Regions from separate parts of the Homo sapiens genome. Here regions 1 and 2 are each reported to be linked to region 3. Evidence: microRNA targets listed by miRTarBase, many of them from high-throughput screens and not tested one by one. Region 3 holds a microRNA gene; each other region holds the end of a gene's coding sequence. Distances are from middle to middle.

The links. Region 3 holds the annotated microRNA hsa-miR-5681b (AGGUAUUGCCACCCUUUCUAGU, at 2,310-2,331, opposite strand). A microRNA usually pairs through its seed, bases 2 to 8, with sites in the 3' UTR of a target mRNA and lowers its output. Matches are read on the target gene's strand: a 7mer-m8 pairs with bases 2 to 8, a 7mer-A1 pairs with bases 2 to 7 and ends in A, and an 8mer does both.
Region 1: the mRNA of SLC25A32 is a reported target of hsa-miR-5681b. Seed matches in the 3' UTR shown: 8mer at 908-915.
Region 2: miRTarBase lists PGM2L1 as a target of hsa-miR-5681b. Seed matches in the 3' UTR shown: 7mer-A1 at 1,803-1,809.

What each region holds. Positions count from the first base shown.
Region 1 is chr8:103,396,707-103,400,938 of GRCh38, reverse strand. SLC25A32 (solute carrier family 25 member 32) reads left to right here. Exons shown (of 7, transcript NM_030780.5): 7 at 393-2,301. The coding sequence ends at 528. Among named protein-coding and RNA genes, the nearest start is that of SLC25A32, 16 kb to the left of the region's middle.
Region 2 is chr11:74,333,234-74,337,479 of GRCh38, forward strand. It overlaps PGM2L1 (phosphoglucomutase 2 like 1), which reads right to left. Exons shown (of 14, transcript NM_173582.6): 14 at 1-3,521. The coding sequence ends at 3,419. All of the region lies in intron 2 of LOC112268078 (a long non-coding RNA gene), which reads left to right. Among named protein-coding and RNA genes, the nearest start is that of P4HA3, 24 kb to the left of the region's middle.
Region 3 is chr8:74,546,275-74,550,520 of GRCh38, forward strand. It overlaps MIR5681B (microRNA 5681b), which reads right to left and starts at 2,335; the gene lies at 2,276-2,335. It overlaps MIR5681A (microRNA 5681a), which reads left to right and starts at 2,269; the gene lies at 2,269-2,343.

The sequences.
Region 1 (4,232 bases), 29 Mb from region 3:
ATTAAGGAAATAAAGTTTTATATTTGTATGTGCTGTATTTAATGTTGGCTAGCATTTATCCAAGCTATGAGGTTTTTTAATGCCTACATTAGGTCAATTAAAACTCCTGCTTGTACATACATTTAAAAGCATTTGAAAGATAGCTAATTGAAAGCACTTTTTAGTTCAGTTTTGAGGTGTCCCTACCCTCTCTTACTCAGTCCATCCATAAAAGGAATGTAAATCCCTACAGATGGCTTATAAACTACATTACTTTAGGACATTGAAAACATGAACTTAAATCAGAGTAAGGTTTGACTGCTGCTTGCTCCATGCCTTGTGTCAGTTAGAACTTCCGTGTTTTCAAGCTAGCTCTATACAAAATTAAGCATTATCTATTTTTCCCTCTAAAGGAAAGAAGGCGTCGGTGGATTTTACAAGGGAATTGCTCCTAATTTGATTAGAGTGACTCCAGCCTGCTGTATTACCTTTGTGGTATATGAAAACGTCTCACATTTTTTACTTGACCTTAGAGAAAAGAGAAAGTAAGCTCAAAGAGGACAATTCCAGTATATCTGCCCAAGGCAGCAACAAGCTCTTTTGTGTTTAAGGCATAAAAGAAGAATTCTGCATAGAAACATGGCTCATATTCGAAATTGCTCTATAGTCATTAGAAGCCAGAGAACTGCTAAGTCTCCTGCAATGTTTTTCTTGCTTTTTGCCTTCCCCATATATATGGAACTTGGCTACCTCTGCCTGAAATGGCTGCCATCAACACAATGTTAAAACTGACACGAAGGATAGAGTTTCACAGATTTCTACGTTTTATTGGTGGAAGCTGATTTGCAACATTTGCTAAATGGATTAGATGAATGTACTTCTTTTTGTGAGCTTACTTGCCTGGATTGCTTTAAAATTAACCTTTGTGCAATACCAAGAAAATAGCTCTTTAAAAGAATGTCTTTGTATGTCTCAAGGTAAATTAAGGATTTACTGAATAAGGTGTTGACCAAATCCAGACCATTTTATTTTATTTTTTTATTTATTTATTTTTTGAGATGGAGTCTTGCTTTGTCGCCCAGGCTGGAGTGCAGTGGCGTGATCTCAGCTCACTGCAACCTCCACCTCCCGGGTTCACGCCATTCTCCTGCCTCAGCCTCCTGAGTAGCTGGGACTACAGGCACCTGCCACCACGCCTGGCTAACTTTTTTTTATATTTTGAGTAGAAATGGGGTTTCACCATGTTAGCCAGGATGGTCTCAATCTCCTGACCTTGTGATCCGCCTGCCTTGGCCTCCCAAAGTGCTGGGATTACAGGCGTGAGCCACTGCGCCTGGCCAGACCATTTTAGAATTGGGAAATTTTAGTGAGAAAAAATGCACTGTAAATATGCTTTAGTTTTAATTCAGTTGGGATGCACTACCTAGCGAAAATTGAGAAACTATATACTTCTCAGAGAAATATCTGACATCTATTGTCATTCCATTGCTATTTTTTTTCCCCAGAGACTTCCATAATTTAAAATAAAATCCTAGATCCAGTTCTTGTTTTTTGGCATAAATACTTAATCTATTTTAAATTTATAAAATCTGAGCTTCTAGGATCCAGCTGTGTCAACCTTTATTTAGCATATATAACTATAAATCACTTATTACAGATGCTAAATAGATCACCTTTTACAGATGCTGAAATGTTTGGGATATGTTTGTTGACAAGGTAAATGGAAATGAGAAACTTTATACTTCAGTTTTCAGATATATGGATCTAGATCCCAAATAAATGATTAATCTTCATTGGTTTCTCAAATTCAGGTTGAAATACAAATTAATAGCCTTTATTGATTTTACTTTTATGAGTCATTGTAGACATCTATAAATATAAAAGGGCCTGTACCCAAAGGATGCCAGAATACTAGTATTTTTATTTATCGTAAACATCCACGAGTGCTGTTGCACTACCATCTATTTGTTGTAAATAAAAGTGTTGTTTTCAAAGCCATCTTTAAATAGTTCTTTAAAAATAGGTCTTTTTTTTATATTTTGGAAAAGGCATTGTTTTTAAAGTAAAGATAAAATGGTAAGTACCTAATTGTATTTACTGTAATATCTTATAACATGCAGATGAATGCTTTATAAGTTAAATATGATGTATTTTTTCATACTTCTGGATTATACTATAATTCATATGAAATCTTGATATTAGTCCCCACACGGAAAAAGTGAACTGCAGTTGATATTTGGTGTTTAAGATAGCACCATTGTTTAAATACCGCCTATGTACTCCCAAATGAATAAAACATAATTCTTGTCCTCTGAGAGCATACAAGCTTGTGTGATAGATAAATATGCATTAAATAATTACAGCTATAGATTAAGAACTCGTAAGGAATATCTCACAAAGCCTGGTAAGAGTTCTGACAGAAGAGAACTCAATTTCAGTCATTCAACAACAAATAGTCACTCAACTCCTGCTCTTTGGCAGGTACGTCACCAAGCACTGAGGATATAGCAATAAATAAGCCAGACAATATTCCTGCCCTCAGGGAATTTTCATCTTGGTGTAAGTGACAGAAAAGGAAATATATGCATAATGTAATTTCAGGTATTTAATGCTATAAATAAAACTACAGCAGAACGGGGGAATAGTGTTGCTATCTTAGGTAGTATGGTTGGGGTCAGGAAAGGTCTCTGAGATAGTATTTGGAACATTTTGAAAGAAGTGAGGAAGCGAGCCACAGTGAGAGGAAACACATTCTAGGCAGAGAGGACAGGAAGTAAAAAGGGCCTGAGGGAGGAATTAAGTTGGCTAGAGGGGATGGGTGAGGAGAGAGAGGAGGTTGGAGAAGTGGCCACTGCAGTATGGTGGGAAAGAGCTCAGGTGGGACAGCCAGGCCCTCTGGCTTCAAAATTCAGCTTTCCCATTTTCTGTTTGACCTTAGGCAGATCACTTCAGCCCTCTTTGTCTTAGGTTTCCTGATCTGTAAAATGGTGTCTTAGATCACTTCCTCTGTAACAATGCCGGAGATGGGGATTCTTGGGCAAGTGATTGAGGGAGCACTTTCAGGAGAAATCTGTAATGGAGTAAAGCAAGCAGGGTAAGGCCGGGGAAGAAGAGTTTCAGGAGTAGTGCAGCCTCACCCTGACTCATAGGGCACTCTGCTGAATGAATTGGGCCCAGCGTTGTCCTGCCCAGAGTTGAAGGGGCTGAGCCATTAGGTTCCCACATCAGGCTGTCACGGACCACTGGCTACAGGGAGAAAGGATGGAGGAGTGACTGTTACCTCTCCTCAGCCAAGGGCAATCCTCCAGATAAGGGTGGAGGTGTCAGTTCTTACCAGCCAACACCTACAGCAGCTAGGGTATGGGTGCACCAGTCCTGTGAAAGGGGTCTGGGTAAGTCACCAACAGCATCTACTGCAAATGAGGATATTAAAAGTACATAGCCGTAGGATTATTGAGAGGATTAAATTAATGAATTTTTAAAAGGCGCTTAGTGTGCCTGGGCCAATAAATGTTAGCAGAGACCAGGCCTTGTAGGCCATGGTGAAGAGTTTTGATTGAGAGATCATTCTGGTGATTGTATAGAGGAAACAGGAGAAAGGCAAAAAAGCAGGAATACTAGTTGGGAAGCTTTTACAAATGTCGAGTCATGAGCAGGTGGCAGCTTGGACCTGGTCGATGGAGTCTGAAGTGGTGATTTATAGCTTGGGGGAACTAGAGCAGGGTTCATGGAGGGGGAAACATTTAAGCTGGGCATTGAATGAAGATTCCAGAGGGAACCATGGAAAAAGGAAAGCACAGGTGACCTGCCTTGAACAGTGAGTTGTCAATTAATGTGATAATAAAAGGAAAAGGAAGAGAAAGATGGAAGATTGAGACCAGGACATGAGAACTCTCAGAGCCTGACAACCTATGTGGGCTTTATTGGGTAAAAGAGAAGTAAGAGTAATTAGAACAGAGAGACATGGCTACTGCTTAGGGGTGACAGAGGAAGACTGGTCAGACAGGAGGAACAAATTCAAAACAGAAGGTGTTAGTCAACCAATAGATATTTCAGTAGGATGAAGATTGATGCCACTGATAAAGCAGATTTGAATTATAGAGGCTGATGACACATTGCAAGCAACTTAGGGGGTGGGGTGACTGTAAGTATTTATTTCACTATGGGCTCTTCTTTCCTGGATTTTGGCAGATGAAAGGAAGGTAAAGAACTTTAGCTTGTAAAGGTACTGCAGTTCTACGAAGGAGTATAGG
Region 2 (4,246 bases), not on the chromosome of region 3:
TCAAGAAGTTCCTAAATCTTAAACTTTCCATGCTGTCTTTAAAAAAAAGATCCTTATTCCCTCTGGTTCTGTCTTCACTAGAGATGGAGAACACTATGGCATAGTATTTCTTACTTTGAACCCTTCAATAAAAGACTCAATAAAGCTTTATTAGCAAACTTAGCAAACTATCTCAACAGCTTTCTCCTCTCCAGAGTCAAACAATCTTTATTCCTTGAACTTTTTCTCAGAAGTCTTATTTTCTAATCTACATTTTCTTCCTTTTTATTTCTGCTCTACCTCTTCCTGAGTTCTCACATGATTCTGATACAACATCCTAGCAGGAACTGAATCCGTAAAAGGGATACTTTTTCTCACCTCCTAAACCTTGGCCTCATTTTAGTGATCACAATAAAGGAAAATGGTAGGTGCATACTCATCATAACAACAAATAAACACAAGTAAACAGGTGGGACACAGTTTATTCCCTACTGTTATGGTGTTACATTTGCCCTTCACGAGAAGCATTTCCCGTGTCTCTTTATATTGTTTGCTTATTTCTACTGTTTATTTCCAATGTATGCTTTGATCTTGCCCTACTAATTCTCTCCTTTTCTCCAAAGCTTTAGAAAATTCCAGTTTTGACTTTCATGCTCAATGAGAATGCAATCATTTTCACAATATTGTTCAAAAAGAAAAAGATAAACATTGTAGTGCCCGAGGCTGAGACCTCCTAGCCAGCACTTCTGTCTCTCCTGACCAGCTTGGGCTATCACTGAATTTATCCTGTTAGGCAAATGTGCACCTACTACATCAAGTTCATGTTAAGTATCATGCTCAGACAGACTCATGACAGGCTAGAATAAAATAATTCCCTCAATCGATACACTTCAGGAACATTTGTAAAATTTTGTTAACTTGAGAGAAGAACACTTCAATAACTTTTCACCTTAAGATGACTTAAATGTTGCATTATATTAAAGCACTCAAATAAAACTGTTTTCTTCATAATAGAATGACAGTCATGACATGGCTTTAGTAACTATGAATGAGCCGTTGATTCATTTTAGCTTCATTTTTGTTTATCAGTCACTGAAACACAGAACTAAACCAAATATACCTGTTTTTCATATATACAACATTATACCACTTTGCAGAATATATGCCATTTCCTAAATTACAATCTACATTCTTAAAAGCATATAAAACAAAAGATGTTTTACACATTTTAAAAATAAAACAAAAATTCTACACATATCTTCTCCAGTGCAAAGCCTTTGAAAACAAACTCATTGAGAAAAATGGTGCTCTACATTTAGCTAGCTGTCTATTATCTACAGTCATACAGTCATATAAGATCCAACAATAAGAAAGTAAGGAAGGAACAAATTAACAATAGTGGCAATACAATAGTTGGACAATTAGGTTTGGATTATATGAGCTCAACCAAATGTTAGCTGACAGCTGCAACAAACGAAACCATGATTTAAGGAACATTCTAATCAGTTCAAACTTTATATTATTATTTTATATGAAATAAATTCTCTAATTACAGTGCTATCTCCCATAAGCAATTTGTTTAGGTCTTGTTATTGTTATCTCCTAACTATACCCCATATGTATTCTGAGAACTATGTAGGACAAGATACATTTTAAGAAGATTAAACACAGCATTTCTTTTTCTCTCTCTCTCTCTTTTTTTTTTTTTTTTTGAGATAAGGTCTCACTCTGTCATCCAGGCTTCAGTGCGGCAGTGTGATCATAGTTCTGTAACTTAAACTCCTGGCCTCAAGCAATCCTCCTGCCTCAGCCTCCCAAAGCGCTGGTATTACAGATGTGAGCCACCAAGCCCAGCCTAAACAGCATTTCTCTATTAAACCTTTTCAGAAGACTGCATGATTAGCCAAAAGTGACTTTTTTTTTTTTTGAGATGGAGTCTCCCTCTGTTGCCCAGGCTGGAGTGTAGTGGCGTGATTTCGGCTCACTGCAATCTCAGCCTCCTAGGTTCAAGCAATTCTCCTGCCTCAGCCTCCCGAGTAGCTGGGACTACAGGTGCCCACCACCACACCCGGCTAATTTTTGTATTTTTAGTAGAGACAGGGTTTCACCATATTGGCCAGGCTAGTCTCAAACTCCTGACATTGTGATCCACCTGCCTCAGCCTCCCAAAGTGCTGGGATTACAGGCGTGAGCCACTGCGCCCAGCCCAAAAGTGACTTTTTGTAAAAAATTATTTTCTACACTAAAAGAAGATAAATAATAGTCATGCAATCAGAAATTCTACAGAAGTCAGCAAGATGTTAGAATAAACTGGACCTCTGTTTTAAAACATGTAGTTTTAGTATTTCATAATACTTAAAATTTGGATGTTTTATTCTTAGTAAAATTAACATTACTTCATAAAATAAAAGAATAAATCTACTTACAAAAATGTAATTCAAAAGTTAGACTGTCAAATAAATTCAGAGCTCCTTTCTCAGTTCAGATTTTTTTCTGTAATAAAAGGTTTGATAAATGACACAATTCTAATATGAAGATCCTTAACTACATTAAGCTTGCTTTTATTAAGATCTTTATTTATATTCCTAAGATTTTAAAATCAGCAAACTCACTTGATATAGAGGAAGCACCTACAGATTTTGGAAGATTTTCCTTAGCTATCTGCAAATTGACTGATTAAATTATGGTAAATGCAGGAACACTGTTTTTTCTGTTCACACCAGACCCTGAGAAGGCACTGAGAAATTTGATAAGAACAAAGCCAATAGGAGTGTTGCCACTATTGTTTTATGTTCAGTAAACATCAGAATTTTAAATACATACAGTAAATTTATACTGCACCAAGGGCACCTGAAACAGACATGCCAAAACCACACACTGTAACATCTGTTCTAAACTACAGAAATGCTAAATATCCTATTTCAAATACTCTAATTTGTAAATTAATACCTGTGATGTCACAATGACACTTTTTCATAACAATCAAGGAAAGTACCATTTTCTTGCCAATTTTATGGACTAATTTCCTTAACTAACCCTACAATTATATAACATTTACCTGTCTTTTTTTTTTTCTTTTACCATGCTATACACAATTACGAGATACAGAACTAGGCTTAATCACACTATAATAAGAAAACTCACTTTTGAATTGTGATGTTTCTGTTAACGGAAGGACAATACGTTACTATAATACTTTTAGTGTAATAACTTTTGTTTGAATTATGAAAAAATTTGAATCATTTCCCTCTAGACCATTTCATTTCAAACTTATACTTTGTTTAGTCTAGCCAGTTGACCAAAAAGAAAGAAAATAAAAGGAAAAAGATACTCGGCCAGATGAGATAGAGAGAGAATGCTAACACAAGGTTCAATGTATGCAGTTCTCGGTTGCTCTGTTCCATATGCCCACACAGTGTCATGACATATTGGTGTACCCCTAAACAGAACGCCAGATCAGTCCATTCTTACTAGGCTGAAGAAAATTCTCTATCAGAGCATCAATGAGTTTCTTCAGTTCTTCCTCCAGTAAAGCAGTGTCACTGAGGAAAAGATGAAGAGTTTTGGAATTATTTATTTTCATAGGCTTAAAATTTATTTAAATTAGTGTGATTTTTTAAGAGGTCCTGATGGAGTCATTAAACAATTGGTAAACAAAAGAGAAATTCACTTGGTTAAAACAAAACAAGACCAAAAAAAAAAATTACACACAAAGAAAACACTGCTATCACAAACTGAAGGTGAACTGCATTAATAGGAGTTCCTTGGCACATGATAAACAGAGGAGTGATGGTGTATCTAAAGAATTCTCCTGGGTCAGGAGAATGAGGTTCTAATGGCTTTGAACACAAATACCAGGTGTTAGGAGAAAATGGCTTCCTGAAATACTTTGAAAAATATTCAGTACAGATGTTATGGAATGATATATCTTTCAGGTAGCAGAAGGAGGTGTGACTAAAATAACGTGATGTTTAAAAAAATAAATGTGCACTTAAAAGAAGGCCCTTGAAAGTCATCACTGAGGTGCTGCCGTTGCCCAGAACATTTCGAGGCAAGCCTCTTTTAAACTGCCTTTACAGTCATTTTAAAAGCTACACAACAAATCAGTTCTTATTACTTTAATAATCTTCCTTCATTTTCAACCAGATGTAGCATTACCCAATTTGGTTTACTTTAGATTCTACTTTGAATGACTTCGGGGGCTCTTTATCCCCCCCAAAGGAAATGAAATCTATCCTTAAATGCAAAGATTTGGGGAAATACAAAA
Region 3 (4,246 bases):
AGTGTCTACTCATTTAGGGCATTGGGTATACTTATAACTGATAAACGAATCTGTGTTTTACATTTCCTAATTGTCTTTGTATGCACTTTTGTGCCAGATTATTATCTAACAAATTATACTTGTTTCCTCTTTTGTTGCCAAGTAACACATCAAGGTCTAAATAATACCTCAGGTTTTACACACTGTACATGCTCCAGGGAGACCAGAAGGCTCACCTTGCACAAGGTGGTTAGCAGATGGGTGAAGCTGGTTAATGCTTCTCCCATTTAGTATCTACAAAAGGGAGCCTCAGTGACTCTGTGGGGTGTGGGGTCATGGGGAAAATAAGAGTACTTTATTCTTCTTGTCCCTTTTCTCACCAGAAGTGATTCTGTGCATAGTGTTTGCAAATAACATGAATCTAGTAGAAAAATAAGAACCATCCAAGAAACAGCTAGAATACAAAAAATAAATATCAATGAAGCCAAACTAAAATATGAAGGAAACCAAATTGAATATGCTGAAGTGCCCCCAAAAAGACATTTTTTAAAAAGCCTTTGCAATTACAGAAGGTTACTGAAAATAACAAAAGGAAATAAGATGTTTAAAAAGTAACGGTGAGCTGGAGGCAAAAGGGCAGTGAATTGGTGAGAAATTTTCCACTGCCCAGTGAAGTGCCTGAATCCAGCAGAACAAATGAGCCCAAATTTGCCGTGCTAATTAAATTATATGGGAGGCTTGGTGGTTACATCTTCCAGCTACCAAGTCCTGTCTGTTTGGACCAAGAATTCTCAAACCAGACTGAAAATCAGAATCACCTGTGTGCCTGGTCACACCCCAGAACAATTAAATGGAAGTTCCTGGGGTCTTGGGGATGAGATGAACATCAGTACTTTTTAAAGCTCCTAGGTGATTGCAGGGTGCAGCTGAAGCTATGAATCACTGACTTAGAGGGACCCAGCTGCCCTGGAAATATTGGCCTTTCAGCTGAAGAATAACTACAGATGTTTGTGGCAGACCATTTCCTCAAGGCAGTTTACTGAGCCCCATTGACTGTTCCCAGCAGTCACAATTGGGTTCTGTGGCTCATAGCCCATTGGTAGAATGTGTACAGCAGATGTTTGAATGACATTAACAAATGGAAGCCTCCAAATCTTTCCTTGTTTAACAAGTAACAGCAGGTCCTTGTTTAAATAGTGATCATTAGTGATCGACTTTAATCCTTCGATTATAAATCTCCCATTTCTTCTTCTCTTCTATAAACTAGCTGACCTTTGTGTGCACATTGTGGATGTGTGGATGGCAGCAAACTGGAATTTGGACTAATTGAGTTGTCAATCAGATTTCTGTGCACTCCATATCACGTAGTTAGTAAGACTGAAATTATGGAAGGTGGTTGATTATTCTAGACATCTGAAGGATTGTTCTGAGCTCAATCAATTTCTTCACCAGCTGTTCTCAGGGCCAAAATGCTGAAAACAGTGGATACCATTTGGGATATGGAAAGGCCAAAGTCAAATCCAACTTGGACTCGGCAAAATAGAAATAGTCCTTTTCCTCATGTACTTTTAAAGTTTAGTCACATTTTCACGATTATAAACTGTTACTTTGGGCAAAGGATTGTTTCCAAGAAGCCAATGAATTGCACATATACAAACAGGCTGTGTTTCGGATCCATTTGTAGGAAACATCTTCTCAGCCCTCTGCCTCTTATAACCCCTGTGGCTCCTTATTAATGCACCTGCAGGAGAGGCACACACTATGTCACTCAGCCCTGGCTGCACCCTCAGGCAGGTGGTGTGTGGGTGCTTTAGCAGCTCTTTGAAGAATGTGATGCAGAACCATGAGCTAATGAGGAGTGCTAGGCACTATCCACCTGCAACTGGAGCACAGTATACTGCTCAGCAAATGTCCACATCTAGCAAAGCGGCTGCCCTTTGTCCACACTCCAATTTAGACAGAAGGCAAATGAAAAAGGACACACACAAATTTTAGTTTTCATTCTCCTTGGAAACATTTCAAAAAACTAAATAAACAACTGCCTCCTCCTGTCCTCTACCTCCAGGCTCTTTGGGAGCAATCCCTTAAGCAATTGACGGTTCTTTGGGAGCAGAAATAAAGAGAAAGTGAAAATTCTGGCTTCCTTTTTGAACTACCTTAATCTGTGAGAGAAAAAAAAAAAACCCTAAGTGATATGATAGATGCAACAAGTCTATGTTTATCGTGATTTATTGTTCACAAAGGGCTTTATATAGATGATCTCATATATTCCTTACAACTTCCTTGTGAAGTTTTTGAAGAGTATTGCCACCCTTTCTAGTCCCTATTAGACTAGAAAGGGTGGCAATACCTCTTCCAAAAACTGAGACTTGTTGATATTAAGTGAGTTGCCTCAGCAGTCAATGGCACTTTAAAATGTGTTTTACCTATTTTGTAGGATTTTTCACATGTTGTTTTTAACAATGGGAAGGGGATAGCCACTAGAGATACCAATATACACTATTCTGAGCCAAAGAAGCCAAGTTAAAACATGCCTTCATGGCACTTGAATTCTTTATAAAGTAATTTTTGAAGTTGAATTGAGACTTCCTGTTTAGAAGCTTGATTATAAACTCTTGGCTAGTTCTCTGACTTGCACACTTGTGTTCTGCTATTCCCTGGTCCTGAGGCCAGCCTCAGTCCCCCAGGGTTTTCTATTTATAGACCTCTTTCCTCTTTACAATAAACCACTTATTACTTTGGGTCAACTTTCAACCAAACAAGTCTCATTCATATAGGGGTCCTAAGTGGCTTCATCCTCTTAAACAAAGGAAAACCAAGATGGAAACAAGACGGGGAGCATTACATTGACTTGTGAGCAGGTAGTGACCAATAACTAGTGGGTTTTCCCAAAAACACAAAACCAAGCAGATCAAGGTGAAAGGGGTGGGGAAGTGGTGCTGACAGTGGAGGAGAGGGTCTGAAATGATTTTCTTGCTTGTCTCCAAGCTCTCAAGATTTGCAGGTACAAGAGCTCATCCAGGGACCAAGTGCCATCTGTTCATTAGAGACCATGCACGCACCATGGGCCTTAGGAAGAAGAAAAGTCCACTGCAAAGGGATTCTAGAAAAACATAGGTATCGGGTCTTATATGCCATCTGGAAAATGCATAGTTTCCATGACTGTGGAAGTAAGAGGGTATCTCACAGGTCAAGACTGTCCAGGATGCTTCAGGGTTTGCTTGTAGTAAAAGTAATTTTTTTTTTTTTTGACGTGGACTCTTGCTCTGTCACCCAGGCTGGAGTGCAGTGGTGCAATCTTGGCTCACTGCAACCGCTGCCTCCCGGGTTTAAGCAATTCTCCTGCCTCAGACTCCCAAGTAGCTGGGACTACAGGTGTGCACCACCACGCCTGGCTAATATTTTGTATTTTTAATAGAGATGGGGTTCACCATGTTAGCCAGGATGGTCTCCATCTCCTGACCTCGTGATCTGCCCACCTTGGCCTCCCAAAGTGCTGGGATTACAGGCGTGAGCCATTGCACCTGGCCTAAAGTAATTTTTTTTAAAAGTTATTTGTTTTAAAACATTTTGTATTAATTACATTTATCGCCATGCTTCTGGAAAAAGGGTGAAAAAACACTTTGCACATTATCTGGGAAATTATATACAGTGTATTGCTGGAAGTAATGGGCTAAGGATCTATAATACAATATTTTTAGTAATTATGATAAAAGGAGAGAATATACACATTATAAGAAACAATACTTTTGGTATCATCTTTATGATAATGGTATTAGAATTTATTGTGAGTTCTGGGGATTCCTATATCTTTTATTTATTATAGTACTTTGAAGTTTTCTTCTAATTCTCTATACCAACTTCCAATTTAAATAAGAGAGAGACAACTAGACACTAGAACTAGGAGAGTTACAATCATTTAGTCAAAACTACAATTTTTATGAGAACTGAGGGTCAGGGAAGTTACATGATTTGCCCAACATCACACATCTTGTTAGAGGAAGACCTGGAACTAAAACTGAGGAAAAGATGCAGTGGATTCTTTTTCCTTTTTTGTGCATAAATTTCTTGAATCTTTTCAAATACGTTGCATGGAAACCACTCAGCAAGCAGGTAAGAAAGGGTGTTTGAAGTACAGGATTCTTTCAGAATGCTACAGCCACTCCAAGTCAGCAATGGCTGCCTCTGGCTGACCTTTAGGCAACTTTTACAATCCTGGCTGCCACCTCTTTGATTTTTTTGTGCAACTTAGTTGTCAGTTTAGCAG